Homo sapiens: one gene and its partner. The protein of the gene in region 1 interacts with the protein of each later gene in a pairwise test. Each region holds a gene or a part of one and is shown in the gene's direction. Other genes may lie near its edges.

The links.
Region 2: the proteins of RMND1 (region 1) and GALNT6 interact in binary tests that used the Homo sapiens proteins (3 or more experiments, as listed by UniProt).

What each region holds. Positions count from the first base shown.
Region 1 is NC_000006.12:151,417,108-151,432,593, reverse strand, and holds part of RMND1 (required for meiotic nuclear division protein 1 homolog), read left to right. Parts: intron 1-2,416; coding exon 2,417-2,456; intron 2,457-5,011; coding exon 5,012-5,112; intron 5,113-8,962; coding exon 8,963-9,069; intron 9,070-9,988; coding exon 9,989-10,053; intron 10,054-11,272; coding exon 11,273-11,349; intron 11,350-15,194; coding exon 15,195-15,315; intron 15,316-15,322; exon of another isoform or gene 15,323-15,486. UniProt on the Homo sapiens protein: Required for mitochondrial translation, possibly by coordinating the assembly or maintenance of the mitochondrial ribosome.
Region 2 is NC_000012.12:51,370,687-51,386,172, reverse strand, and holds part of GALNT6 (polypeptide N-acetylgalactosaminyltransferase 6), read left to right. Parts: intron 1-2,590; exon of another isoform or gene 2,591-2,712; intron 2,713-3,663; exon of another isoform or gene 3,664-3,860; intron 3,861-6,288; 5' UTR 6,289-6,391; coding exon 6,392-6,882; intron 6,883-8,805; coding exon 8,806-8,978; intron 8,979-15,486. UniProt on the Homo sapiens protein: Catalyzes the initial reaction in O-linked oligosaccharide biosynthesis, the transfer of an N-acetyl-D-galactosamine residue to a serine or threonine residue on the protein receptor. May participate in synthesis of oncofetal fibronectin.

The sequences.
Region 1 (15,486 bases):
TATCCTCAGCACACCGATGAAGGTCTATTTTGCACCTGAGGAAACTGAGGGTCATAGGGATTGAGTTACCCATAGTCATGAGACTAATACGTGACAGAACAGAAACACATGGACCATCTGTAGGAATCCAAAGTTGAGTAAAGTTCTTGTGGTCATAATCCTTATAGTTGATGATAAGTGGAAGTTCTTTTTTCCTTTCAATGCCTACCTTCCTTTTGACCCCATCTTTAGAGAGAATCAAGATTCCAACATTTAATTCAAGTAGAGTAATAGCATCCCTGTTGTTCCGAGTGAGGAATTTAGATTTGTGAGGGACTCTACATCAGCACTGTCTAGCAGAAATACAGTGCAAGCCTCGGCTGGGCACGGTGGCTTATGCCTGTAATCCCAGCACTTTGGGAGGCTGAGGCAGGCAGATCACAAGGTCAGGAGTTTGAGACCAGCCTGGCCAACATGGTGAAACCCTGTCTCTACTAAAAATACAAAAAATTAGCCAGGCACATGGTGGAGGGTGCCTGTAATCCCAGCTACTCAGGAGGCTGAGGCAGGAGATTCACTTGAATGCGGGAGGCGATGGTTGTGGTCAGCTGAGATCGTGCCATTGCACTCCAGCCTAGTGACAGAGTGAGACTCTGCCTCAAAGAAAAAAAAAAAAAGAAAGAAAGAAATATAATGCAAGCCTCATATGTAATGATACATTTTCCAGTAACCACATTTTAAATATTTTTAAAAAGATAAAATTAATTTTGAACAACACAAATATGTTTCTTAACATATTAACATGAAATTAATTTAACAATGTATTTTATTCAACCCAGCATATCTAAAATATTATCATTTCAACATGTAATTAATAATGATATTTTTTCACTTGTCATACTAAGTCTTTGAATTTTGCTGTGTATTGTACACTTACAGCGCATCTCAGTTTGCACCAGGCATGTTTCAAGCACTCAATAGCCACATGTGGCCTCTGAGTACCACATTGCACAGCACAGTGCATTCCTCTGGTTGGAGGAATATGCAGTTCACCAGACCTCTCTTCTGCCTGGAAGGGATTCTCTGAACTGATACTGTGGCTGTGGCTTGAAATACCTCTCAAATCCGTATCCTGAAACCTTATCCCTGCCTATTGTAACAGCTTATTGTCTCCCTGCCTGCCTGCTCACCCACCACCAGTCTGTTTGTCTATTGTAAGCAGGGTCATTCTTCAGTGGCCATTTCTGACCACTACACTCTCCTGCCTAAATTTCCACGGACTATGAACAAATTCTCTATCACTGCATAAAGTTCCCTTCTGGATTGTCCCCTGCTTGCCTCTTTATCCTGCTTGCCCACTGCTTGACCACATCTGCAGCCACGCAGCTACTGGCTGTTTATTCTGAGATGCTGCTCTGCTCCGTCCCACCTCCTCTCTGAGCCTGTGTGTCCCCTCTGCTATGTTGTCTCCTCTTGTTTTCTCATTTGGCTGCCTCTGCTAGTCCTTTAGCAAAGGGGTCCCTCTGGTGTACATCTCATGGTATACTCTGCATACTCTTGTAGCACTGATCACACACTATTGTAATTGGTGGTCTAAGTGTCAGTCCCAGTCTTTTCTAGATTGAGGATAGGAATGAAATCATACTTATGTTTCTATCACAAATACTAAGCATGGACCCACACATATACTAAGTACTTTAGAAATGTTTCAAGAATAACGTGGAGCCATTAATATTTTTACCTTTCTTTTATTTCCTCCTTTCCTTCCTCCAGTGCACTGACCCTGAGCTATAGCTCCTGTTTTTATTTACTACCTGAAACAGCTTCAACACGTCAAACTTGAGAAATCAAAACAAATGCATTCGTAGTTTTAGACCCTAAATAATGTTAAAGCCATAATCGGATTCAGAGGGCCTCCTGTGGTGTCACTGTAGTTCTGTTCCAAGCACTGTGAGCGTGGGGAGCATTATTCCATAGAGGCCTTTAACCATCTGATGCTTAAATTAACCACCATCTCTTTATTCCACAAAAATCCAGGCATAGCCCTTTATTCCTTGCACATAGTAGAGTCTGCCTAATGAGAGCTAAGACAAGGTCTCAAAAAATTTCCTTATTCTGATTTCTGTGGATCAGAATTGAACCAGGTATGAAAGAGTCTACATACGTGAAGTTATATAGTATTACAATAATGGCTATTTGTTTGGCAAACCATGTGAGAAATCATAAATTTTGAGGAGGTCAGGTTTTATCAAGAATTTTATTTTAGCTCTTATTGTAGGAAGTTCACCTAAGGACCATAATATCAAATTAGTAAGTACCATCATATTTTGAAAAATCGCATCCTGTATACATTCTAGAAGTTACATGGTTTTATATACGACCCTAAAGAATGTATTCCATCTGTATCTTAGTTGTTTCTTTTATTTTTTTAAATCAGGGAAGGAGCTGCTGTGTTTTGGAATGTGAAAGACAAAACTGTAAGTGTAAATAAAAATGTGAAAATATAAAAATTTAGTTTTGTGAGAATGAATTGTTAATTAGCACATACTGAAACATTAGAAGGGAAATTAATAGATTATGCACAACTTATTTGCTCTGCATTACATGATACTTATCAGTTTCATCTTCCAAAATATATTGTATTTTGGGTTAAGATTTCCTGCTTTTTCCTTTCTCTAGACACACACTAATTTGTGGAGAATCAGAACCATCCTAACTATACTGCAGACAGAAGTACTGTAGACTTTGCATGTTGTACTATACAAAATGTATGCAGTTAATTGGAAGCTGGTTGCATTGAGTGTTCTTTTAAGTCAAGTTGTCTAGAACTTACTACTCATGGGAAATAATTTTTTCAAGATCCAAATCAAGATTTGTTTAATACAACCATTTTAGAGGCAAATTGGTAATCTACATTAAAGCTTTATATTTAACCCAGTAATTTTACACCTAGAAATTTATCCAAAGGAAATAATCATAACTATTCGTGATGATTTTTGTACAAAAATGTTCATCAGAGCAATATTTATAATGGCAAAAATTAGAAATTACCAAAATACACAATAATAGTTTGTTAAATCATCCATATACTACAGATATACTATAGATCCCCTTAGAAATCATGTAAAAAAATATCTATTTCTGGGAGATTGCCTATATATATAATACAGTTACATTAAAAGAGCAGATTATACGGCCAGGCATGGTGGCTCACGCCTGTAATCCCAGCACTTTGGGAGACCAAGGCCGGCAGGTATCTTGAGGCCAGGAGTTCGAGACCAGCCTGGCCAACATGGTGAACCCCATGTCTACTAAAAATACAAAAATTAGCTGGGCGTGGTGGTGCACACCTGTAATCCCAGCTACTCGGGTAGCTGAGGCACAAGAATCGCTTAAACCTTGGAGGCAGAGGTTGCAGTGAGCCAAGGTCAGACCATTGCACTCCAGCCTGGGAGACAGAGGCATACTCTTGTCTTCAAAAAAAAAAAAAAGCGGGTTACAAAATATAACCAATATAATCTCAGAACTGGTTAAAAAACATGCTTTATACAATCCCAATTTTACGAAAAGGAAACACACACAGTAGGTGGTCGGGAAGGGAACTTAGAGAAAAGAAAATATAAATGACCAATAAATTTAAGAAAATACAAGTTGGCTATTTGAAGTTGCAAAGATGTAAAAGGCTGATAAACCCCATTTCTTAAGAGTAGTTTCATAAATGTTGAGATTCTACATTTGGAAAAACTACTTTGGAGAGCAGGCTAGCAATATTATAAGTGTGGGCCAGGTGTGGTAACTCATACCTGTAATCGTATCACTTTGGGAGTCTGGGGTGGGAGGATCACTTAAGCTCAGGAGTTCCAGACCAGCCTGAACAACACAGTGAGATCCCATCTCTACAAAAAGTTTTTAGAAGTTAGCCAGGTGTGGTAGTGTGTACCTGTAGTCCCAGCTACTTGGGAGGCTAAGGCAGGGGGATCGCTCGAACCCAGGAGTTTGAGGCTGCAATGAGCTATGATTGCATCACTGCACTCCAGCCTGGGTGACAAGGTGAGACCCTGTCTGTTACATATATACATATTGTGTAAGTCCACATATCTTTTGATCTAGCAATTCCTAAAGAAGTATTCCCACAAAGCCATGAAGACCTTTGCACAAGTGTGGCACATCGCAACATTGTAATGGAGAGTAGAAAAAATTCCCCATGGAGGACACACCTAGGTTGGTTAAATAAATTGCAGTTCGTCTGTAAAGGAAAATAGTGTTGAAAATGTCATGTGCATAATATGATCCTATTTTACATAAAAAGCAGCATAAATATGTACATATATACACATAAAAAGTCTGGAAGGATATGCACCAAGTTTAATCATGGTTGCCTCTGGGGATTAGGATTTCAGTACAGAAGAGAGAAAGAGATGATCACCTCCCACACCTGTGTGGCTTAATTTTTTATTAGTATGTTGGGCTTTACTTTTTATTTTTTATTTATTTATTTTTTTGAGATAGGGTCTTGCTCTGTCACACCGGCTGACATTGGCTCACTGCAACCGCCACCTCCCAGGCTCAAGCCAGCCTCTCAGGTAGCTGGGACTACAGGTGTACATCACCACACCCAGATAATTTTTGTATTTTTTTGTAGAGACAGGATTTTGCCACGTTGCCCAGGCTGGTCTTGAACTTTTGAGCTCAAGGATCCACCCGCCTCTGCCTCCCAAAATGCTGGGATTATTAAAGAGATTTAAAGAATACAAATTATAATATTACTAGTGATTTTCCTTGGGTTGTGGGATAATGATAACCTTGATTTTCTTCTCCATTCTCATCTGTGTTTTCCAAATGTAAAAACAAATGAACATGTCATCCTGATTACTTTAATATCACAATGGATTTGATTTGCCTTTTCCTTAAAAACATGCAACAGAAATAATGCCTGTAAGTGTAATGAAGACTGTTATAAGCATTAAAATCATAACATACTTGAACTGAGGGAGTCAGTTATGATTTCAGATTAATCTTCCTTTTCTTCTAGATGAAGCATGTGATGAAAGTTCTAGAAAAACATGAAATTCAGCCCTATGAAATCGCACTGGTACACTGGGAAAATGAAGAACTTAACTACATAAAAATAGAGTAAGCAACTTTTCATCAAATTTATGAAAGGGGCACTTGGAATAAATTAGGTAAAGCAATAGAGGAGACAAATTATTATGCATATGGAAACTTTTTTTTTTTTTTTGAGACGGAGTCTCACTCTGTCGCCCAGGATGGAGTGCAGTGGCACAATCTCGGCTCACTGCAACCTCTGCCTCCCGGGTTCAAGCAATTCTCCTGCCTCAGCCTCCTGAGTAAGTGGGACTACAGGTGTGCACCACCACGCCCAGCTAATTTTTTGTATTTTTAGTAGAGACAGGGTTTCACCATGTTGGCCAGGATGGTCTGGATCTCGACCTGGTGATCCGCCCACCTCAGCCTCTCAAAGTGCTGGGATTACAGGCGTGAGCCACTGGACCTGGCCTGGAAACTTACTTTTAAGAAAAAAGTGGCCAGGCGTGGTAGCTCACACCTGTAATCCCAGCACTTTGGGAGGCTGAGGCAGGTGGATTACCTGAGGTCAGGAGTTCAGGACCAGCCTGGCCAACATGGTGAAACCCCATCTCTACTAAAAAATACAAAAATTAGCTGGTTATGGTGGCGGGTGCTTGTAATCCCAGCTACTCGGGAGGCTGAGACAGGAGAATTGCTTGAACCTGGGAGGCGGAGGTTGCAGTGAGCCGAGATCACGCCATTGCACTCCAGCCAGGGTGACAAGAGTGAAACTCCGTCTCAAAAAAAAAGAGGAAAAAGATTACTGGTACAAATACAAAGTCTAAACCATATAATAAATATTAGAAGATAAACATAATTTTTTGAACTTCTCAGGCTATCCACAAGTTAAAACAAGTCAGTAGTATAGCCCCAAAATGGAAATGTTAAGTTTCTAATCAGCCTAATCCAATAAAATAGTATGCATTTATCAAATGAACCTATCAAATTATTCCAGTAAATTTTTCTCTTAATCCAGTTTTTTCCTATTGATTTTGGGGGGTGGGGGTATGAAAAGGAAGTATAGTGAGGGGTCAATCTAAGAGACCCACTTGTAGAAGTGTGGGTGCTGGAAGAAGTGGGACCTGGTGTACCAGTTTCACTAAGATAAATGGGTAGGCAACAGACTAGCTGATTTTCCTGACTCAGCCAGAGGGAAAAAATGAAGAGATGTTAGGGCCGAGACAGAGGCAGTATGAACAAGATGGTAGTGTCTTTTTCCTCATGGAGTTACCTGTCTAGTGAAATATGAGTCTTTGCAGGTTCTTAAGAAAGGTAGTGTTAGCCAGATTTGGTGGCTCACACCTGTAATCTCAGCACTTTGGGAGGCCAGGGTGGGAGGATCAACTGAGTCAGGAGTTCAAGACAGCTTGGCCAACATGGCGAAACCCCATCTCTACTAAAAATACAAAAATTACCCGGGCATAGTGGCGAGTGTCTGTGATCCCAGCTACTTGGGAGGCGGAGGCGGAGGCAGAGAATTGCTTGAACCTGGGAGGCAGAGGTTGCCATGACCTGAGATCGCACCACTGCACTCCAGCCTGTGCAACAGAGTGAGACTCTGTCTCAAAAAAAAAAAAAAAGCGTTAAAAGCAGAGCTTTGGGAAGACTTGGAAGAGAGACAGAGACTAGCTATAGAAAGACCAGATGGGGATAAGAGCTGAGTAATCAGCGCTCACCACCAATAGGGCCAGTCACGGTTTTCTAAGTAAGTGCCTTCCATGTATTATTTCATTTAATCCTGGGGAAAACCCTATAATTGCAGCTAACTGGCTTTCCGATGAGATTTATTGAATCCTGTCTTGCCAAAGGGCACCTGACTGTGAGTCAGCCTGAGCCCAGTGGTGGCTGCAGTCAGAGGTAAGGATATAAACCTGAGAGAGACAGCAAATGAGCAGCCTGTAGTTTTATTATCTTTAGTAGTTACTCAGCCCTTGGCCTGCAGATACAGCTCCTGTGAATCCCCTTTCTGTGTTCTATTAGGTTTACATTAAAATGGCAAAAACCGCGATTACTTTTGCACCAACCAAATACTTCCATATCCAACTACTGCTAGACCCTTGTGTGTGTGTGTGTGTACGCTTATCCACACACACACACACACGTTACTGTACAGTCTGTGAGGAGTAAAATCCTCAGTGCTTAGGATCCCAGAGTCAGTTATTTTGTTTCGTCAGAAAGACTGTCCTGGCTGCCACCTACATGGTTATTATGTGAGTTCTGCCATGATTCCAGGGATCTGCTCAGCTCTGTGGCATGGGCCCAGTTTACTCATAAAGCATCTTGTGACCAAGCACAGTGGCTCATGCCTGTAATCCCAACACTTTGAGAGGCCAAGGCGGGCAGATCACTTGAGGTCAGGAGTTCAAGACCAGCCTGGCCAACATGGTGAAGCCCTGTCTGTACTACAAATATAAAAATTAGCTGGATGTGGTGGTGCACTCCTGTAATCCCAGCTACTCAGGAGGCTGAGGCAGGAGAATCGCTGGAACCCAGGAGGCGGAGGTTGCAGTGAGCGAAGATCACGCCACTACACTCCAGTCTGGGTGACAGAGCAAGACTCCGTCTCAAAAAAAAAGACCTCTTGTGACTGCTGTCTTTGCTTTCCTTCCTCCATCTGAGGCTGTCATAGCAGATGCCGCCCTCCATCAGGCCCCTTGTCCCCCTCCCTTTGGCCGTCACTTCTTGTCTGACATCTTTTGTGAAGGTTTACCCTGTCTTTTTTCCATTTGCTTGTGATGTTTATATTCACACATTCCGCTCTTCCCCTGTCCCCTGTCTAGGATTCTCCACAGTCACATACTCATTTTTCACAACTTCCTTGCCTCCCTCCCCAACCCCATCATGTCAGTGTGATTTTAGATTACACTCCATATATAGTTTTATATGCAGCATTTTTTCACATAGAAATTTACTGTGAACGTTCTCCTTTTTATTAACTATCCTTCCAAAACACACTTTTAAGTTTTTCTTGTGTGGAGTGACTATTACTGAGCCAACCCCTACTGAACATTTGGTTTATTTCCTAATTTTTTACTCTTAAACACTGACCTTTTTTTTTTTTTTGGAGACAGAGTCTTGCTCAGTCTCCCAGGCTGGAGTGCAGTGGCGTGATTTCGGCTTACTGCAAGCTCCGCCTCCCGGGTTCACTCCATTCTCCTGCCTCAGCCTCCCGAGTAGCTGGGACTACAGGCGCCCGCCACCACACCCGGCTAATTTTATTTTGTGTTTTGAGTAGAGACGGGGTTTCACCATGTTAGCCAGGATGGTCTCAATCTCCTGACCTCGTGATCCACCTGCCTCGGCCTCCCGGAGTGCTGGGGTTACAGGCGTGAGCCACCGTGCCCAGCCAACACTGACCATTTTTTTAAAAGTTTTCAGCTGGGCAAGGTGGCTCGCACCTGTAGTCGCACCACTTTGGGAGGCCGAGGTGGGTGGATCATTTGAGGTCAGGAATTCAAGACCAGCCTGGCCAACATGGTGAAACTCTATCTCTATTAAAAATACAAAAAAAATTAGCTGGGTGTGGTTACGCATGCCTGTAATCCCAGCTACTAGGGAGGCTGAGGCAGGAGAATCGCTTGAACCTAGGAGACTGAGGTTGCAGTGAGCTGAGATCGCACCACTGCACTCTAGCCTGGGCGGCAGAGTGAGACTGTCTCAAAAAAAAAAAAAAAAGTTTTCTTGTATACAAATTTTTCTTTGCATCTTAGATTATTTCCTTAGGATAAACTCCTAGAAAGGGAATTACCTGGACCAAAGGATATGAGAACATTTGTAACACTCTTGATACAAATTGTCAAAATGACCTCCAGAAAGATGATATGGTGTCTTTTTCAAAGGAAAAGTTAAAGTGCTTTTTAAGATTTAGAAGGTATTATCTTTTTGCTTTTCACAGGGGACAGTCAAAACTTCACAGGGGGGAAATCAAGTTAAATTCAGAGCTGGATTTAGATGATGCCATTCTAGAGAAGTTTGCTTTCTCCAATGCTCTATGCCTTTCTGGTAAGTTACTACTGCTTATGGGATAGGGTACTACAGTTGTCATTTCACTGAGGGAAGTTTAAATAGTCACGATTTTGGTATATTTTCAGAATACTCAACAAAGCCTTAGCATTCCTTTTCCTTTTTTTCCCTCCATCAGAAAAAATATCTAGTATAAAAGATAGTACTGTGCTGAAGTTACTCATTCCTTATTAATTGTATTAATAAAGCTTAACCTCTCCAAAAGTATTTTTTAGATGATGATTATATTAGCCTTTGTTTTTTTCTCTTCTCTCTATGCGATTGTTATTCTTAGATAGTCTCTAATCCAGACAGAGAAGCCCAGCCTTGTGTGACTGGGCACAGGTCCCAGTGTAGAAAAACATACTCTAGTGTTCCATAGGAATGGGACCCAGAGTCACAGTGGCTATAAGTTTGTTCTGAAAGATCCACATCCCGAATAAAACTATACAAGTTCTTTAAGAATTTCTTTTGCCAGCAGTCTACCTTAGGTGGCTGCTGCAGCGTCCTGTCCATCCCACTCTGAGGGGCTTCGGAGATTTCTGAGGTTTACTCTTAGTCCTGAGGAGTGAAGGGGAGGCCAGGAAAGTCTTAGTCGCGCCCTATCTGCAGAGCTACCCATGGTATCAAGGTGTACCCTACCCTCCTCAGTTTCCAAGATGTAATACTAGAAAATCAAGAGTTCTACTAAATGTAGCTTTGGTCTTCCAATAGGGCATGGAAAGCGATTCAGTTTCCTCTATCCACTTTAATTCTGTCCTTTATGATAATTAACTATTCTTAAATTATATTTTCAAGGTTTTAGTACTTTTTCTTAAACTATTACTGAAATAGTAGTGAAGATGCTGTGCAATTATGTATTTTATATACATGTGAATATGATGATAAAGAAATGTTCCATTATTAATTTTTTTCCCAGTAAAACTGGCAATTTGGGAAGCATCACTGGATAAATTTATTGAATCTATTCAGTCAATTCCTGAGGTAATTATATCAATTTTATGCTTATTCAAGGATTGATTTTTATATGTAAAAAATATGAATTTCCCAATATAACAATATATAGCTATCCATCAGTATCCATGGGAGATTTGTTCCAAGACCCCACTGGATACCAGAATCTACCAGTGTCCAAATCCCTGATATAAAATGGTATATATTTGCATATAACCTATGCATATCCTCATGTATACTTTCAACCATCTCTAGATTACCTAAAATACCTAATATAATGTAAATACTATGTAAATAGTTGTTATACTGTATTATTTAGGAAATAATAACAAGAAAAAACAGTTTGTACATGTTCGGTACAGATGCAACCATTCTTTTTTCTCAAAATACTGTCAATTTGCAGTTGGTTGAATCTGCAGTTGCAGAACTTATAGAGGGCCGATTGTTTAGGAGTACAACAACATTATTACAAACAATAAGAAAACTACAGTAAACTTAAGAACTCCCAGTTACATATAAAATGACAAATTAAGAAACTTCATATTGATTACTTTTTACTTTTTAAAACTTCAAATTGTTTCCTCTGTTGGTGCAGTATTTTTTTTTTAATATTAATATAATTGAAATGGGGTCTGGCCATGTTGCCCAGGCTGGTCTTGAACTCCTGGGCTCAAGCGATCCTCCTGCCTCGGCCTCCCAAAGTTCTAGCATTACAGGCCACGAGCCACCATGCCCGTCAGTTGCAGTATTTTTAATGTAACTGAATTAAAGAAAAAAGTGAAATGTTTCTCTCTGAGAATGGAAATTATGACCACTTTTCCTGATTTAAGAAAGTGTTTTGCTAAATTATGAGAAAAATAGTGGTATGAAAAATACATATAAAGTTATATTGAAATTTCAGTATACATTAAAAATCATCATATTGTAATTAACTGTGTCTTTATTGTGAAAGAGTAATCTAATTATACTTCGGAAAGGAGGCCCTGCTTTTCTACTAAGAGATTAGGAATGTATATATCATTGAAAATGCTGATGAGAAGGGAAATGAAAAAAGAGAATATACAATTTCTACCTAATAAAATTATGAAATTTCAAGGTGAGTTAAGACATTAATCTGGGAGACAGCCATCCTAAAAAATATTTACATAGGATCCAAATTATGCCACTTCAGATTTTGCCCTGTTGACCTAATGCTTATTAGAAAGAGAGATACATGGTTTTTTGGTTTTTCCGATTCCCTCTCAACTAGGCTTTAAAAGCTGGGAAGAAAGTGAAACTATCTCATGAAGAAGTTATGCAGAAAATCGGTGAACTCTTTGCTCTAAGGTAAAAGTTTTCTCTCTAAATAAAATATTTCATATATTTAACAATCTCAAGAAAACATTCCCATAGTTCTGTGGTGAAGAGCAAACATTTACACGTTTATGGGAACTGTAGCTGTTTTCATTTCATTGATTATAAGCAGGGAGAACTCTTACCCATTAGAAGTAGTTGGGCTGTGTTAAGACTGTACTGAAAGAAATCACGCATGTGCAAAAGAGATCACGATTCATCTACATTAAACCCACATTAAGGAGCACAGTAGGTGTTCTTTGAAGGTAGAAAGACATATTCCTGAATTTGGTTAATGGGAATTCTCTGTAAAAATATATCACTGCATCATAATGCTAAATAGGCTTAATTGCTACAGAAAAGTTTCTTTGAATCTGAGACACCAAGATGCCACTGGAGAGAAAAACTGCTGCCAGTTAAACTATGACAATACTTTTTTTATCAGAGGATTAAAATTTTACACTTACTGAAATATCTTTTAATCTTAGCTGGATATAAATTATATCACATTCCCTCTTGGGCATATATGAAAAGGAAAGCATAAGAAAATAAATTATTTAAGGCAAAGACAAGTAAGTCTCAAGTGCCACCTGTCAGACACCATTAATTTTAAGATGCCTCGAGATGTTAAAATGGGAATAACTATGTCTAAAAACTGATGAATCATTTTAAATAAGTATCTGGAAAGGTTTTCAGCTTTTATTATTCTTGTAGTTGTCCCAGGATTTACGGAATGAAACATCCCGGATGTTGGTGTTTTTCTCACAGGCAGCATTGTCCAGTTTATCCCTTCTAGCATGTGGAATGAGTTACCAGAGCTCACTGCAAATGTTCACCTAAGACTTGTTTTTCCATATTCTCCTTAGATGCTCTGCCTGGAGAGAAGTGATACAGTGTTTCATTGTCTGTGTATCTCTCATAGCTCAGGACCTATAGTTCAGGGTACCAACAAAACTTAAAAACCCATCCATCAGGAGCATCCTGCAGCATATCTGAAGCCTCAAATTCTCTGAGAAGTAGGGTAGAGAGATTCTTCTCTCCTGTTCTCTTGGTCATGCAAGCAGAAATTGATGTAGTGAATTATAATATCCAAACTGAATAGTTAGGACTAAATATACGTAGGTTTGTGAATAGTTTCTATAAAGGCTTACTTTTACTATCCTGTTTCCTTACCTGTACAATAAAAATGCTTATTTGTTAATATAAGGAATGTGATACATCTGTGAAAATAAACATGGCAGATAATATTAGATTAAAAAACTAAATCTAAATTTATATAGGGTATGATCCCATTTGTGTAAGCAAATAAAAATATTCATGTTTATCTTTATATGCATACACATGTACATGTGTTTGCTTGCACACACATGCATGTATGAATACAGAAAGATCTGGAAGTACACAGCAAAGTGTCTCTACAGGCCTGTCCTTGGGGAGAATAAAGGATTTAAGTAGTGTGGTAGCATAAGAGAGCCTACCATTTTTCTGAATCCTTCTCTAGGATATTTTCCTTTTTTTTTTAATCGTGAACAGGTATGTATGTGTTACTTTTTTTTTTTTTTTTTTTAAACAGGGTCTTGCTTGTCACCCAGACTAGAGTGCAGTGGCATGATCATAGCTCACCAAAGCCTTGATCTCCTGGGCTCAGGGATTCCTCCTGCCTCACCCTCCTGGGTAGCTGGGACCACAGGAGTGCTCCACCACACCCAGCTAATTTTAAAAATAATTTGTAGAGACAGGGTCTCAAACCCTTGCTCAAGCAATCCTCCTCCCTAGGCCTCCCAAAGTGCTGGGATTACAGGTGTGAGCCACCACATCAGTTTATGTGTACTTTCATAACTTAGATTTTTATTTAGTTAAACATCTAAGTGTAAGGCCAGGCACGGTGGCTCACACCTGTAATGCCAGCACTTTGGGAGGCTGAGACAGGTGGATTGCTTGAGGCTGGGAGCTCGAGACCAGCCTGGCTAACATGATGAAACCCCATCTCTACCAAAAATACAAAAATTAGCCAGGAATGGTGGTGTGCGCCTGTAATCCCAGCTTCTTGGGAGGCTGAGGCATGAGAATTGGTTGAACCCAGGAGGCGAAGGTTGCAGTGGAGCCAGGATCATGCCACTGCACTCCAGCCTGGGCGACAGAGCAAGATTCTGTCTCAAAAAAGAAAAAGGCTGGGCACGGTGGCTCACATCTGTAATCCCAACACTTTGGGAGGCCGAGGCCAGTGGATCATCTGAGGTCAGGAGTTCAAGACCAGCCTGACCAACATGGAGAAACCCCATCTTTACTAAAAATACAAAATTAGCCGGGCGTGGTGGCACATGCCTGTAATCCTAGCTACTCGGGAGGCTGAGGCAGGAGAATTGCTTGAACCCAAGAGGTGGAGGTTGTGGTGAGCCAAGATCGCGCCAATACACTCCAGCCTGGGCAACAAGAACAAAACTCTGTCTCAGAAAAAAAAGTAAGCACAGACTTCTTATATTAAAATGTAGAAATTAAGAGAGAGAGTGTGTATGTTTATGCTTGCTTGTCTAGTGTTTGCATAAACACTGGAAGGATACAGCGGAAACTAGAAGGGATTACTGATAGGGAAAGATACAGATAAGAATAAGAGTTAAGATTTATCAATTTTTACCTGTTTATATCTTGATCTGCTCAGGAGGCTGAGGCAGGAAGATCACTTGAGCCCAGGAGTTTGAGGCTGCGGTAAGCTATGATTGTGTCACTGCACCCCAAACTGGGTGACATATGAAGACATTATCTCTAAAAAAATTTTTTAAATAAAAAACAAAAAAGTGTGGACATATTAAATTTTTTTTTTATTTGAGATGGGGTCTCACTATGTTGCCTAGGCTGGAGTACAGTGTCACAGTCTTGGCTCACTGCAGCCTCTGCCTCCGAGGTTCACATGATCCTCCCACCTCAGCCTCCCAAGTAGCTGGGACTACAGGCATACACCACCACACCTGGCTAGTTCTTGTATTTTTTGTAGAGATAGGGTTTCGCTGTGCTGTCCAGGTTGGTCTTGAACTCACAGACTCGAGCAATCTGCCCGCCTTGGCCTTCCAAAGTGCTGGGATTACAGGCATGAACCACCATGCCTGGCCCTAAAATTTTTAATAAAAAAAGTTTAGGCTGGGAATGGTGGCTCACACCTGTAATCCCAGCACTTTGGGAGGCTGAGGTAGGCAGATCACGTGAGGTCAGGAGTTCGAGACCAGCCTGGCCAACTTGGTAAAACCCTTTACTAAAAATACAAAAAATTAGCCAGGTGTGATGGTAGGCACCTGTAATCCCAGCTACTTGGGAGGCTGAGGCAGGAGAATTGCTTAAATCTGGGAGGCAGAGGTTGCAGTGAGCTGAGATCATGCCATTGTACTCCAGCCTGGGTGACAAGAGTGACTCTGTCTCAAAAAAAAAAAAAAAATTGAAAACAAAATGAGTTTTTTTCTGTGTACTTCATAAATAATGTTGGTATTAAAGATTGAATTAATTTGGTTCAGAAGTTTGAAACTCATTTGTAAATTTTATTTACATGTTTGTTGGCAGTATTTTGCAAAGGTCAGCATTAACAAATGTTTTCAGCCACATGCAATGCCACATGCCTGTAGTTCCAGCTACATGGGAGGCTGAGGCAGGAGAACAGCTTGAGCCCAGGAGTTCAGTTTGCAGTGAGTTGTGATCACACCACTGCACTCCATCCCGGGTAACATAGCAAGACCCTCTCTCTTACCAAAAAAAAAAAAGTTTTCATAAAGCACTATGTAAATATTAAATACAATAGAAACAATGATTTTTAATTCAAGATAAATAAAAAGTTATAATTTTCCTTTTTAAAGGCACCGTATAAACTTGAGTTCAGACTTCCTGATTACTCCTGATTTCTACTGGGACAGAGAAAACCTGGAAGGACTTTACGATAAAACGTGTCAATTCCTTAGCATTGGCCGAAGAGTTAAGGTACGTATTTTGCACTTCTAATGAGAGAAAAAGACACGTTGTCGCCTATAAGTTGAATATGTTTAACTGCTTGCAGAGAAATATCTTGTTTGACTTCCATTCAAATCTCTTTATATTTCCCCTTCTTGTCCTCTGTACAGTCACTTCAATTTTTTGTGTCAAAGGATCTTC
Region 2 (15,486 bases), on another chromosome or scaffold:
TTAGACCCACAGACAGACCTAGTCAAAACAGCAAGCTAATGTGTAATGGCAGAATATCCTGTAAGTCAAGTATTTCTTGCAGTAAGTTCATTCAGAACATCATTTAGTGAAGCCAGTGCTCCACATTTAACCCTTCCAACCTCATCTCATTTAACAAGAGTTTGTGGAACTAGCCAGGCCTGATGGCACGCACCTCTGTATTCCCAGCTACTCAGGAGGCTGAGATAGGAGGATTGTTTGAGCCTGGGAGGTCGAGGCTGCAGAAAGCTGTGTTCATGCCACTACACTTCAGCCTGGGTGACAGAGTGAGACCCTGTCTCCAAGAGAAAAAAAAAAAGTTTATGGAACACCTGCTATATGTAAAACTTGTGCTAGACTTTGTAGGTGATAAAAAGCTGGAAATGGCATGGCCTCTCTGGTCCAGGAGTCCATAAACACAGGGTGGGCTGTGATGAGACTGGAGTACAAATAAAAATCGGGTGCTAAGGGGGCAAAGCAGGGAAGAGATGAATTCTGCTGGGAGATCTGAGAAGGCTTTTTGGAGGGGGGCTAGAATATAAACTGTGGGGTTTGGACTGTGTCACTGGCTTTCAAACTTCTATGACTTGACCAAAGTGAGAAATATACTTTATAGCGAGACCCGGTACCTGTGTATATGTGACAGGGCATCCCAAAAATCTTAGGGCAGTTTTATAATTTAATCACATTACAAGCATAAATTCTGCAAACCATAAAAACTATCATTTGAAAATGGAATCATTTAAACTTCTTTTGTCTTTAGTTGTATGAATTTTGAATAACAAATTTATCATTTTAATTTTGTATCAGGCAGTGTGTATCTTTAATAGACTGAAACAAACATTAAAATAAAAGTTTACTTTTCAGGCTGGACATGATGGCTCACACCTGTAATCCCAGCACTTTGGGAGGTCAAGGCAGGAGGATTGCTTCGGCCTAGGAGTTGAAGACCAGCCTGGGCAGCATAGTGAGACCCCCATCTCTACCAAAAAATAAAAATTAGCCGGTCTTGATGACACACACCTATGGTCCCAGCTACTCCAGAGGCTGAGGTAGGAGGATCCTTTGAGCCCAGGAGGTCAAGGCTGCAGTGAGCTGAGATTGCACCACTGCACTCCAGCTTAAGGAACAGAATGAGACCCTGTCTCCAAAAAAAAAGAAAGAAAGAAAAAACGAATACTTGCCTGTGTTACATGTGATACATGATGCACTTTGATATTTTCTTTTCATTCTATTCTGGGTTTTTAAAATTTATTTATTTTTATTTTTTGAGACAGGGTCTCGCTCTATTGCCTAGGTTGTAGTGCAGTGGCATGATCATAACTAACTACAGCCTCAACCTCCTGGGCTCAAGCAATCCTCCAGCATCAGCCTCTCAAGTAGCTGAGATTACAGGCCTATGCCACCACACCCAGCTAACTGGTCTCTTTTTGCTAATTGGTCTTTTTTTTTTTTTTTTTTTTGAGACAGAGTCTTGCTCTGTCACCCAGGCTGGAGTACGGTGGTGCTATTTCTGCTTACTGCAACCTCCAGCTCCTAGGTTCAATCAACTCTCCTGCCTCTGTCTCCTGAGTAGTTGGGATTACAGGCACATGCCACCATGCCTGGCTAATTTTTGTATTTTTAGTAGAGAAGGGGTTTCACCATGTTGGCCAGGTTGGTCTTGAACTCCTGGCCTAAAGTGATCTGCCCACCATGGCCTCCCAAAGTGCTGGGATTTCAGGTGTGAGCCACTGTGCCTGGTCCTAACTGGTCTTTTAAAGAAATTTTTGAATGCTAATTTGCAACACTCTGAATTTATTTTATAATATCACAGTGGATTGTAATCAGCAGTTTGATACAAGCTGGGCTGGGTAAAGCCTCAGTTCCTTACACCAGTGAGAGAAGGTAAGTTTGTGTTCTGGCCGGTGGGGCCAGGGAAGCAAATCCCATTTGTTCAATCTAGGCAGGCTTTTCAGAGAGGATTTCTGGCATCATCTCGGGATCAAAGCCAAGGATGGTCCAAAGAGTTGCAGGCCCAAGGGTAGCTGGAGGAAAAAGACTTGGGAAGAAGTGCTGAGCCACAGCGAGAGGGAAATGAGTGGATGGGGGCTGCGGGCACACTTGCCAGGAAAGCAGGAGGCCAGGTGTGGGAGCCCAAAGGTGAGGGAGATATACAAGACACCAGGGGCGGATCTCGTGAAGCTTTGTACTTGAAACAATAGCAAAGAATAGCAGCTATTCTTTCTCCAAGGCTGGTGGAGGGGCGACCTCCACGACCTTGCTAACCATACTTCTGGGAATCATCTCCTACACAGGGAGCAGAAATCCTTAACCCCAAAGTCCTGTGGCTTGCACTAGATTCTGTGTCTCTTCTAAGGGACTCTTCCTGTTGCCCTCATGCTAAGCAAACAAACTAGAGAATGAGTGCCTCACCACCAAGGCTAATCCCAGGTGTCTCATTTCGGTTCAGGATGTGGTTAGTACCTTGAGGAACTGTAGGTTTGAGAGAGAAAGCTTCAGGCAGCCAGATGGGATTGAGAGATTAGATGCCTAGGAAGAGCTCAATTTAACCCTATATTTCTTTCTCCAGGGAAAATAAAAGAAGCAAAAACAGGCCCTGCTGTGAGGGACCACGAGGCAGTGCCAGGATGAAAGAGTTGGAGTAACCTAGGTGATTCTGAGTGAATCAGTCAGGAGGCCTTCCTGGAGGGGGTGAGTCTTGAGCACTGGCAACAGTTAGTAACTACAATCTTACCATGCCTTTGTTTCTAACTGTGCTCCCTCTTTCTTGCTGGAGTGGGAAGGTAGATGGAAAGTAGCAGGGAAGACGAAGCCTGCAGGACGGTTCAAAGCTGTCATGGCAAACACTCCCCCATTCTGCAGGCCTCTGTGTGGGCTTAGCCGGGACAGTTCCAGAACTGATGAGGTGTCTAGCTCAAGCAAATCCCCCTGTGCTAGCCCCAGCATAGCTCAACCTCTGTGACAAGAAACTCCTGCTACACTGAATCCCCATTTCCTCCCCGAAGCCTTCCTCAAACCCACAGGGAACTCTACCTCTCTCAGCTTAGCTCTTACTGTCTGTGCTATTCTGCTTTAATTTTATTCATTTTTGAATAAGTAATATAGTCAGGGTTCAAAGTACAAAAGAGTATTCAGTGAAAGGTCCTTTTCCTGCTCCTGAATCTCCCCTGGTCAGGTGCTTCCTTCACCTGGTCAGTGCTATCAGTTCTCGTTCTCCAATAAGATTTTCAAATCCCTTGGGGAAAGGAATTGAGCCTTTGTGTCCCTCTGTGTACCAGACGGGGTAAACTGTCCCACCCCATCACCCAAGGGGGTCTTCCTAGGCACCATACCCTCCCTCTTCCATCCACACTGCTACTAACTCTCCTGGGTCAGACTCCGAATGGGTCATCCAGCTGCCAAGCAGGTCCCTTTCCAAGATACCCTCCACCGCTGTCATATTGCTCTTCCTGTAATGCTGGGCTCCCAGCTTAACGCTTTATTACTCCCCATGCCTTGGGTCAAGGGCAAATGCTCCTCAGCATGATGAACAAGGCCCTTAGGACTTGGTTTCAGCCACCTCTGTAGGCCCAATTTCTGCTACTCCTGCCATACCAGACTGCTTACAGTTCTGTGACTGGCTCTTCTGTCTCCCACCTCTAGACCATTGCAGGTACTGTGCCTTCTGCCTGAAATGTGCTCACCTCGCCTCGCTGACTCCTACTCGCCAGTTAGTGTTCGGCCCATTTCTGCCCCCGTGAGATTTCTTCACAGATGTTGCCCTCCCCCATTTGCTGAGTTTCCTGCATGCCGGCTCCTTCAGCACTCAAGGGTACCTCTTTGATTCTGCTTCTCACAGGGTAATCTCTGTTTAAAATCTGATGCCCCCAATTGACTGTAGGATCCTTGAGGGCTGGCCTTGCACTTCTCTGTGTCCCCCGCCTCTTGCAGAGTACCTGGTAGAGGCAGTTATTCAGTAAATACTGGTGGAATAAACAAATCTCTCCTATCTCCTAGACAATAGTTAATACAAAATAGATGCTCAAAGAGATTTCTTTTGTTTGATTTTTGACGGTGCTGCTGAATCTGATGTTATAAAAGAAGCCACATTTGTACCCCAGTCCAGAATGAATCCACCTCCCCACTTGAGATCACGATGGCCACATACTCCCAAGGTCTCAGACACCAGGCCTCTCCACAGGCAGGAGCTTGTGCGTTTAAACAATAGCATTAAATAGTACAACCAGAGTTATTTTTAAGCAAAACATGCAGGGAGTAATGAACGTGGCTTTGGCCAAGGGCCAGGTGCTTGAGGATAACTGCTGGGAAGTGAAGCAGGGATTTATCATAATAATAGAAATAGTTGATACCATTTATTGAGGGCTTAGTGTGACAGGTGCTCTGCCAAACATTTTACCTACATTATCTGATTTAATCCTCCCCACAACCCTGTGAGTTAGGTATTAGTTGCCCCCACTTTATAGATGAGGAAATTGAGGCTTAGAGGGATTAAGTAAATTACCCAAGGGTCACACAGCTGCTAATGATCAAAACTAACACTTTGTGGGAACTTACCATGTGCAGAGACTGCTAAGCTTTGTCCATGAATTTTGTGGGGAAGGAGCATAATCCTTGTAACAACCCTAGGAGGTAGGTGCTACTACTAGAAGAGGAAGAACTGGAATTTGTGCCCAGGTCCCTTGCCATTGATGTCTAGTGCTTAACCAGTGAGCTTATGTGTCCAGAACTCTGCACAGAAAGTTCTGCAAGCATTCATCCTCTAGGGCATGGATCCACATGCCTGGGGGTGGAGCCTGGTGAACGCCCATGCCCAGCCCTGCCGGGAATGTCTTGTCATGAAATCTTAGGTTTCTGTTAAATTCTTTTTTATTAAATAGGAGTAGATTACAGATAACTTTTATTTATTTATTTTTAAAGACAGAATCTCTCTCTCGCCCATGCTGAAGAGCAATGGTGCGATTATAGCTCACTGCAGCCTTAACCTCCTGGGCTCCAGCAGTCCTCCTGCTTCAGCCTCCCAGGCAGCTAGGACTACAGGTGTGCACCACTACGCCTCGCTAATTTTTAAAATTTTTTATTGAGATGGGCTCTCAATACGTTGAGCAGACTGGTCTTGAACTCCTGGGCCCAAGCGATCCTCCCACCTCAGCCTCCCAAAGTGCTGGGATTACACCATGCTTGGCCAAGAAATATTTATAAAATACGTATAGGGTCTAAAGAATTACAGTCCACCAGCAGCCGCCATCCACTTTGAGAAAAAAACACTTTGAAGTCCCCCATTAACCATCTCTAATCCTGTACCGTTTTCTTCATCTTCAGAAACTGGTTATGTCATTTCTTTAGCTTTCTTTTTTTCGTGGGGAGACGGAGTCTTGCTCTGTTGCCCAGGCTGGAGTGCAGTGGCATGATCCTAGCCTACTGCAACCTCTGCCTCCCGGGTTCAAGTGACTCTCCTGCCTCAGCCTCCCAAGTAGCTGGGATTACAGGCATGCGCTACCACGCCCAGCTAATTTTTGTATTTTTAGTAGAGACAGGGTTTCACCATGTTGGCCAGGCTAGTCTTCTTTAGCTTTCTTTATAGCTTTATCACATATTTGTATTCAAGAACAAGATATTGTTTAATTTTAGCATGTTTTTACATTTTCTATAAGTGGAATCATACTGTATGTATCCTTTTGTCACTTGCTTTTTTCACCCAACAACACATCCACATTGTTGCATGGAGAAGTGGTTCATTCTTGGTCATCACTGTAGAGCACTGCACGGTATGGGTATTTTGCACTTTATTTATTCATTCTGCTAGTGGACTTAAAGGTTTTACCAGTTTGTTGCCATTTAAGTCAGTGTTGGCTTAAATGTTCTTGTACATACCTCTTGGTTTGCATCTACCAGAGTTTGTCTGGGATATAAAATGAGGAGTGGAATTGCTGGCTCAGGCTGTGTTCATTTCAAATTTTTCTTGATAATACCAAGTTGTTTCCCAAAGCCATAATGATTAAATCTCATGAGTTTAATGATTAAATCTCATGTAGTGTTTCAGTGTTCCAGTGACTCTAGATCCATGCATATTAGGATCTTAGGGCAGGAAAGAAACACTGCCTCCGGTCTCCTCATTTTATGGATGAAGGAAATGTAGATATGGGAAAGTTGTGGCCAATAAGGTGATGCCACCACTCAGCAACAGAGCCTGGCCTCGAACCCCAAGCACCCGACTCCCTCCTTACCCTGTGTTGGCTCACTTCTCTCTCTTGTCCCCTCCTTTCTCAGGCTGAGGCCCCAGCTTGTGGCCACCACAACGTATCAAGCTATCTCCAGGGTTGGGCTCAGGACTCAGAGCTGACGCAGCTGGGGTGCCCCTTGGTTCTGGAGGATGAGGCTCCTCCGCAGACGCCACATGCCCCTGCGCCTGGCCATGGTGGGCTGCGCCTTTGTGCTCTTCCTCTTCCTCCTGCATAGGGATGTGAGCAGCAGAGAGGAGGCCACAGAGAAGCCGTGGCTGAAGTCCCTGGTGAGCCGGAAGGATCACGTCCTGGACCTCATGCTGGAGGCCATGAACAACCTTAGAGATTCAATGCCCAAGCTCCAAATCAGGGCTCCAGAAGCCCAGCAGACTCTGTTCTCCATAAACCAGTCCTGCCTCCCTGGGTTCTATACCCCAGCTGAACTGAAGCCCTTCTGGGAACGGCCACCACAGGACCCCAATGCCCCTGGGGCAGATGGAAAAGCATTTCAGAAGAGCAAGTGGACCCCCCTGGAGACCCAGGAAAAGGAAGAAGGCTATAAGAAGCACTGTTTCAATGCCTTTGCCAGCGACCGGATCTCCCTGCAGAGGTCCCTGGGGCCAGACACCCGACCACCTGAGTAAGTAGCACCCAGAGTCCTTGTGGGGAGACCAGGGCTTTGCTAAAGGCATGGCTAGTATGGCCAGGGCCATAGATCAAGGGCCAGAGAAAGAGTTGAAGGGAATTTTATAATATGGGCAAGGATCTCCTCTATGCCTCACTTCTTTCCCAGAACAACTGTGCTGATCCCAGGGGTTGTGATTCAAGGGTATTATGGTCAGGCCAGAGGCCCAGGGAGACCTGTGAGAGTGAAATGCAATTATGAAAGTGAGATGATGTGGAAGAAGGAACTCAGCCTGGCACCAGGACCTGGCACGGGGTGACTGGGGAGACCTGATACCAAGCTGTGGTTTCAGTAGCTTTCTCCTCTACTGAGGCCTGCTCCAGAGACTGTGGGACTCTAATGCTGAGCTGTTTGGGGGGGGGGTGGGCATTTCTTAACAGCAACCCTGGTGGTTAGGAATATCCTCACACCTGGTTTCCTCCAGTGAAGGCCCACAAGGCCGGAATTGATTCCAACCTTTATCTGAAGTTGTTTATAGCCTCAATCTTGCACAATGAGATCTCACTTAGATCTTTGAGTGGCAGCCCCCTCCCTCTAACGCCCCCATGGCTGCATTCCCATGATCCTCAAGTTAAAGACAGTGTGTCTTCCCCACTTAGCCTTTGTCTTTTCCAGGTCAAGTGTTATACCCTATTTGGCCTTTTCTCAAATGGCAGCCCTCATCCCCAGATTTCGTGAGTCTTTAGGGCTGTGAACCTGAGGTTCTTGAGACTTGAGCCAAGTATGATAGCCCTAGAACAAGGGGCCACTTGAAGCTATCAGGAATTCCTCAGCAGAGAAGGGCACTGGGGCCAGGCACAGTGGCTCATGCCTATAATCCCAGCACTATGGAAGGCTGAGGTGGGTGGATCTCTTGAGGCCAGGAGTTCAAGACCAGCCTGGCCAACATGGTGAAAGCCTGTCTCTACTAAAAATACAAAAAAATTAGCCCGGCATGGTAGTGGGTGCCTGTAATCCCAGCTACTCAGAAGGCTGAAGGACAAGAATCGCTTGAACCTGGGAGGTGGAGGTTGCAGGGAGCTAAGATCATACCACTGCACTCCAGCCTGAGTGACAGAGCAAGACTCTGTCTCAAAAAAAACAGACAGAGAGAAGAGCACTGGGTGTGACAGCAGCCAGAGGAGGAAGACAGGGAATCTCTCTGGAGGGTCCCCAAGAAATCCTCTGACCAGCAGAGGAGGTCAAGGAAAGGGTGTGAGGTCACATGATTCCTTGAGATCCAGGATTCACACATTCCCACCCCAACCCTGAGATAGAGTGTCAAGAAGGTAGCAGCATGGCCAAGTGCCACAGAGTAGCTGGAGTGGATGAAGTTGGAAGAAAGGTTGCAGGAAATTGACTGTGATAGTGGTGTCAAATCACAGGGAGTTAATGAGAAAATGGATTAGAGAGGAACTGTACGCTGTAAAGGGAAGAGCCTTTTCTTCTCATTGAGTATGGAAATCATAGTCACTTTTCTCAGATGTCAAATTTGGCCTTTATTACCTACCCCTCTGGGACCTCTGGATTGGATTACATTTTATGCAGTTCACATATTACGGAGGAAGAGAGCCAGCCCTGGGAACTCCTAGCCTGAGAGCAGATAGCAGATGAAGGAAGGGGGTGGAGGAGCCTCAGCATCACAGCTGGGGCACTGAGCCAGCTCTGTGGGGATGGATTTTGGAGTGGTTTGGCTAGAACCTGTGCAAAGGCTCAGGGTGGGTGGCAGATACCGGGGAAGACAGGAACAGGGAACAGCTGTTCCCACCTGCTATAGAGAATGTAGGCTGTGGTTCAGAGGAGTGGAGGATGGTCTGGGGGAGTCTCTGGATGGGGCCCTCCCCACACCTGGTACTCCCAGGGACCAGGAGAACTTTGTCCGTACTTTCATACTTCCAGGTGTGTGGACCAGAAGTTCCGGCGCTGCCCCCCACTGGCCACCACCAGCGTGATCATTGTGTTCCACAACGAAGCCTGGTCCACACTGCTGCGAACAGTGTACAGCGTCCTACACACCACCCCTGCCATCTTGCTCAAGGAGATCATACTGGTGGATGATGCCAGCACAGAGGGTGAGGCTGGAGGGGCCCAGAGGAGGGGGCCGGGGTCTCCCCTGGGCACTCAAAGGAGGAGGGCAGTTCCTTTCAAGGGAGCAGGCACCACCTCATGAGCCTGTTGCCTGACATCACAGCTCATCTTAAAGGCCAGGAGCAGGAAGAAGTCAGGTAGGGGCAGGTAGACCATGCTTCCTTCACACCTCAGCCAAAGAGCTCCAAGAGCTTTTCAGCTCTGGCTTCAAGACTCCCTGAACGCTGCCAAGGCCAACCCTAACTCAGAAATGCTGGGAGAGACAGGGCAGAGGGTAGGGACAGGCCTTCACCTCTGTTTCCTACCCGCTGGGCCACTCTTCTGCTCTTGAAGACTCCCCAACCAGCCCTTTTTGCCATAGCTGTTGATAGGTAAGTGGGGTTGCTCACCAAACTTCCAGCCTTCAATTCCACAAACATCTACTGAGTACTGTGTGCCTGGCTCTGACCCAGGCAGAGGGGATGCCATGACAAAGGAGACAGACCCTGCCCTGAAAATACTAAAAACCCCCATAGGTCAGAAGCCTTTTTTTTTTTTTTTTTTTTGAGATGGAGTTTCGCTCTTGTTGCCCAGGCTGGAGTACAATGGTGTGATCTCAGCTCACCACAACCTCCGCCTCCCAGGTTCAAGCGATTCTCCTGCCTCAGCCTCCCTAGTAGCTGGGATTACAGGCATGTGCCACCACACCCAGCTAATTTTGTATTTTTAATAGAGATGGGGTTTCTCCATGTTGGTCAGGTTGGTCTCGAACTCCCGAACTCAGGTAATCTGCCTGCTCCAGCCTCCCAAAGTGCTGGGATTACAGGCATGAGCCACCGTGCCCGGCCAGAAGCCTCTTACAACACTAGCCACAGTGCTGTGGCAGTGATGCACCTGTAACAGGTGTGAAAGGGCATGGACTGCAGAGTCCAACACCTAGGAATTCAAATCCCAGCTCTGACCCTTCCTAGCTCTGTGACCTTGGACAAGCATTTGGCCTCCCTGAACCTGTTTCCTCTTCAAAAAATGGGGGCAGACCGGGCACAGTGGCTCAAGCCTGTAATTTCAGCACTTTGGGAGGCTGAAGCGGACAGATCACTTGAGGTCAGGAGTTTGAGACCAGCCTGGCCAACATGGTGAAACCCCATCTCTACCCAAAATACAAAAAATAATTAGCCAGGTGTGGTGGTGCGCGCTTGTAGTCCCAGCTGCTCGGGAGGCTGAGGCACAAGAATCACCTGAACCCGGGAGGCGTAGGCTGCAGTGAGCCAAGATGGCACCACTGCTTTTCTGCCTGAGAGACAGAGTGAGACTCCTTCTCAAAAAAACAAAACAAAAAAAAGGACTGGGCGTGGTGGCTCACGCCTGTAATCCTAGCACTCTGGGAGGCCGAGGCAGGCAGATTGCTTAAGGTCAGGAGTTCGAGACAGCCCGGCCAATATGGTGAAACCCCGTATCTACTAAAAATACAAAAATTAGCCAGGCGTGGCAGAGCATGCCTGTAGTCCCAACTACTCGGGAGGCTGAGGCAGGAGAATCGCTTGAACCCAGGAGGCGGAGGTTGCAGTGAGCCGAGATCATGTTACTGCACTCCAGCCTGGGCTACAGAGTGAGACTCCATCTCAAAAAAAAAAAAAAAGAGCAGTTGAGTCCCTTACATGGTGGGTGAGGGATATGAGATAGGTCATAAATGAGATTCATGTGCCACAGAGTGGCTGGCATCAAGTAAGAGTGTCACAAGCATGCATTCCATTTTATTCATGGTACGAGAACAATGCACCATGGAGTATGTAGCCAGGAGGTGCCATTTCTGCCTGGCGTGGCTAGGGCTGGTCTGCAGTGGAAGCCAGATTGGAGCTGGGCCTTAAAGGATGAGTGTCTAAGAGAGAAGAGTGGATGAAGGGCATTCCCACAAGAGAATGGCATAAGCACAGTCCTAAAGACATGAATGTGTTTGTTAAAGAGATCTGGTGTGGCTGAAGCTTAGGTTTGTTTAGGAAATGAGACTTAAAAGATGTTAAATTGGCCAGGGACAGTGGCTCACCCCTGTAATCCCAGCACTTAGGGAGGCCGAGGCGGGTGGATCACTTGAGCCCAGGAGTTCAAGACAGCCTGGGCAACATGTCAAGACCTTTTTTCTATAAAAATTACAAAAATTAGCCTGGCATGACGGCATGTGCCTGTAGTCCCAGCTACTCGGGAGGCTGAGCCAGAGCATGACCCTGTCTCAAAAAAAAAAATGTTGAATTGACATTCATGTCATGCTAAAAGCATTTATTTAGAAAGTAAGAAGGAGTCGTTGAAAGTGTTTCATCTGTACTGTGACTTCATTTCAGAAGGATGGCAGCTTTGGAGGAGGATAATCGGCAGGAAGAGAGGCAGAGGACTCACAGTCTGGAGAGGAAGTTCTTACACTCACTTGAGAGTAGGAGATGATGGGGCCTGAACTAGGAAAGGCTGTGGGACTGAGACACCTTTAGGCTGAGAGTCTCCACAAGCTTAGCCCTCCTCGTAGGAGGCATGTGGTGTCTGGGGCTCTCCCAGATTGACCTCCTGTGCTCAAACTCCCAATAGTGAGGGCAGGAACTGACTCCACACTTCCCAGTGTAAGCGCTGGGGCCACTCCAGTAGAGCTGCTTCCTGTCCTTGTCCTCCCCCAGCCTCCCTCCTTCCTCTAGGTTAGGGGTGATGCTGAAAAGAGGACTAGGGCTGTGGAAGGAAGGGCTGAGTGTGAGCCCTGTTGAGTTCATTTCTTCAGGAAGCTCACATCTTCCCAGGGAAGACAGATACTTGGCAGCACTTATAAAGCAAGGCCAGACCAGCCTGGGCAACATATCAAAATCCCATCTCTACAAAAATAAAAAATTAGCAGGCATGGTGGTATTTGCCTGTGGTCCCAGCTACTTGGGAGGCTGAGGTGGGAGGATCACTTGAGCCCAGGAAATTGAGGCTGCAGTGAGCTGTGATTGCACCATTGCACTCCAGCATGGATGGCAGAGTGAGACCTTGTCTCTAAAAAAGATACAAATAAAGTAAAATAGGCCAAGCACAGTAGCTCATGCCTGTAATCCCAGAACTTTGGGAGGCTGTGGCAGGAGGATTGCTTGAGGCCAGGAGTTCAAGACCAGCCTGGGCAATGTCACAAGACCCCATCTCTATAAAAAATAGAAAAGTTAGCTGGGCACGGTGGCATGTGCCTGTGGTTCCAGCTACTTGGAGGGCTGAGGTGGAAGGATTGCTTGAGCCCAGCAGGCTGAGACTGCAGTGAGCCTTGACTGCACCATTGTACTCCAGCCTAGGCAATAGAGTGAGACCCAGTCTCTAAAAAAAAATAATAAATAAATCAAGGCAAGCAAGTATCAGGGATGCAATGACAGGGTCTGGTGGACAAGGAATGTATAGATTAGGCTTCTGGAAAGGGAAGGGTGAAGAGTTTGGCAGAGATGGGAGGAGCTTGGCAGTGATCTCTAGGGAATCTTTGTAGCAATGGAAAGGTTGTATGGAATGGAAGCAAGCATATTAGCGGTCCTTCCTCTCAAACTGGGTTCTTTCGTTATCTTTCTCCTCCTAACCCTATGCTACCCATCCTTCGGAAGCTCTTTCACCTGAATCTCTTGTACTGGAGTGTATTAGTCCATTCTCATTTATAAAGGAGAGAGGTTTAATTAACTCACAGTTCTGCAGGGCTGGGGAGACCTCAGGAAACCTATAATCATGGCAGAAGGGGAAGCAAACATGTCCTTCCTCATGAGGTGTCAGGAGAGAGAAGAATGAGAGCCGAGCAAAAGGGGAAGCCCCTCATAAAACCATCAGATTTCGTGAGAACTTACTATCACAAGGATAGCATGGTGGAAACTGCCCCATGATTCAATTATCTCCCACTGGGTCCCTTCCATCACATGTGGGGATTATGGGACCTACGACTCAAGATGAGATTTGGGTGAGGAAACAGCCAAACCATATCATTTCACCACTAACCCCTCCCAAATCTCATGTCCTCACATTTCAAAACACAATCATGCCTTTCCAACAGTCCCCCCAAAGTCTTAGCTAATTCCAGCATTAACCCAAAAGTCCAAGTCCAAACTCCCATCTGAGACAAGGCAAGTCCCTTCCCCTATGAGCCTGTAAAATCAAAAGCAAGTTAAGTCACTTCCTAGATACAATGGAGGTATAGGCATTGCGTAAATACAACCATTTGAAATGGGAGAAATTAGCCAAAACAGAGGGGCTACAGGCCCCATGCAAATCGAAAATCCAACAGGGCATTCATTAAGCCTTAAAGTTCCAAAGTGATTTCCTTTGACTTCGTGTCTCACATCCAGGTCACGCTGATGCAAGAGGTGGGCTCCCGTAGCCTTGGACGTGGGGGTTCTAAACTGTTAACTTTTCACCCTAAACTTTGTGACTCTGTGAGCTGCAAGTGCCCAGGTAGGCAACTCCTCTGACTAGCTAGACAAGTGACATAATGCCAGGCTGGCATAGGCAGCATCTAACAGGCAGAGTAGCCTGTGTTCAGTAGGGCAGAGTTGGCAGTAGCCCCAGTATCCCCTCCAGAGCACCCGCCCCTAGCAGGCCACCATATACACGTTCACCTTCTCTCTGTCTGTCCTGGACTTGTTGCCCTGGACTCTCTTCTAAAGCCAATTCTCTCCAAAGGCCAATTCCAGCATCTCTAAATCATCTGCATGGTCAGGACGCACTGGCTCACACCTGTAATCCCAGCACTTTGGGAGGCTGAGGTGGGAAAATCACTTGAGCCCAGGAGTTCAAGACCATCCTGGGCAACATAGTAAGACTCTGTCTTTACAAAAAAATAAAAAATTAGCTGGGCATGGTGGTATGTGCCTGTAGTCCCAGCTACTCGAGAGGCTGAGGTGGGAGGGTCACCTGAACTCAGGAGGTCAAGGTTGCAGTGAGCCCTGATCATGCCACTGTATTCAGCATGGGTGACAGAGCGACACCCTGTGTCAAAAACAAAAACAAAACAATCACCTGCCTGAAAAACCTAAGCTAGTCATTCTTATTTTTCTGGGTCCTGGCATCCTTTCAGAATCTGTTAAAATCCCTAGAATAGTGCACCACTGCCCACAATAATATGCAAAACCCACATTTTTGCATTTAATTCCAGGGAATTTGTGGACCCTATGATAAACAACCCTACCCAGAGGGCTTTCAGACGCTAGAGATACTTTAAGCAACATTCAGTTCAGTGAGGAAAGGAGGAAAAAACCCTCAGATCCATGGTCAGAAATCTCTGCCGTCCACAGTGGGATAAAATTTCCCACACGTTTGACTGTTTGATCAGATTAACCAGCTCTCATTACACACACACACAAACAGGACTGTGTCTCTGCCGAAATACAATGTCCCTGCTCTCTGACCTCCACTCCAGGCACCCAGTAGTAGCCCTATGAGAGTGAGTCTAAGGGCATTTGATACCATGGGGGAGGAGACCGCGTGCTGAGCTGGGGAGCTTTTTCTTCCCCACCTCTGAGTCAGAACCAGGGCACAGACCTCATTCCTGAGTGGCTAGGTCAGCAGCCAGGGTTCCCTCCCTGTCTGGCACACTCCACCAGCTTAACTAAATTAGAGGGAAAAAAAAGAAGAATGCAGGGCAATGGGTTAGTGAGTGAGTAATTAGGGAGCTCTTTTCACCGGAGTAGCCAGGAAAGACTACTCTTAGTACTCCCTGCAAAGGGAGCAGCCAACACAGAGGCCTGAGGCTTGACTTGTTAATGAGGCAGAAAGAAGACAGTGTGGCTTAAACAAAGTAAGCCAGGGAGCAGAAAGAGTGCTGGTGGAGTGGGTGTAAGGAGCCGGGCCCATGGCTCATGCCTGTTAATTCCAGCACTTTGAGAGGCCGAGGCAAGAGAACCCTTGAGGTCAGGAGTTTGGGACCAGCCTGGCCAACATGGAGAAACCCCGTCTCTACTAAAAATACAAAAATTAGCCAGGCATGGTGGTGGGCACCTGTAATCCCAGCTACTCAGGAGGCTGAGGCAGAAGAATTGCTTGAACCCCGGAGGCGGAGGTTGCAGTGAGCTGAGATCACACCATTGCACTCCAGCCTGGGCGACAAGAGCAAAACTCCATCTCAAATAATAATAATAATAATAATAATAATAATAATAATAATAATAATTTTTTAAAAGGCTAGCGGGACCAAATTGTGAGACCTCCGTAAGCCACCGACAGTGTTTGGATTTTTCATGTGTGTATGTAGTAAAAGGCACGACATAAAACGTATCATCTTCACGGTTTCAGTCCACAGTTTATTGATTTTAAATGCATTCACATTATTGTGCAACCATCTCCGGAACTTTTTTTTTTCCCTTTTTTAATAAGATGGGGTCTCACCATGTTGACCAGGCTGGTCTGGAACTCCCAGCCTCCCAAAGTGCTAGGATTACATGCGTGAGTCACCACAACCAGCCAATAACTTATTTTTTGTCATCCCAAACTGAAATTCTGTACCTATTAAACATGAATTCTCCACGCTGTCCTCCCCAC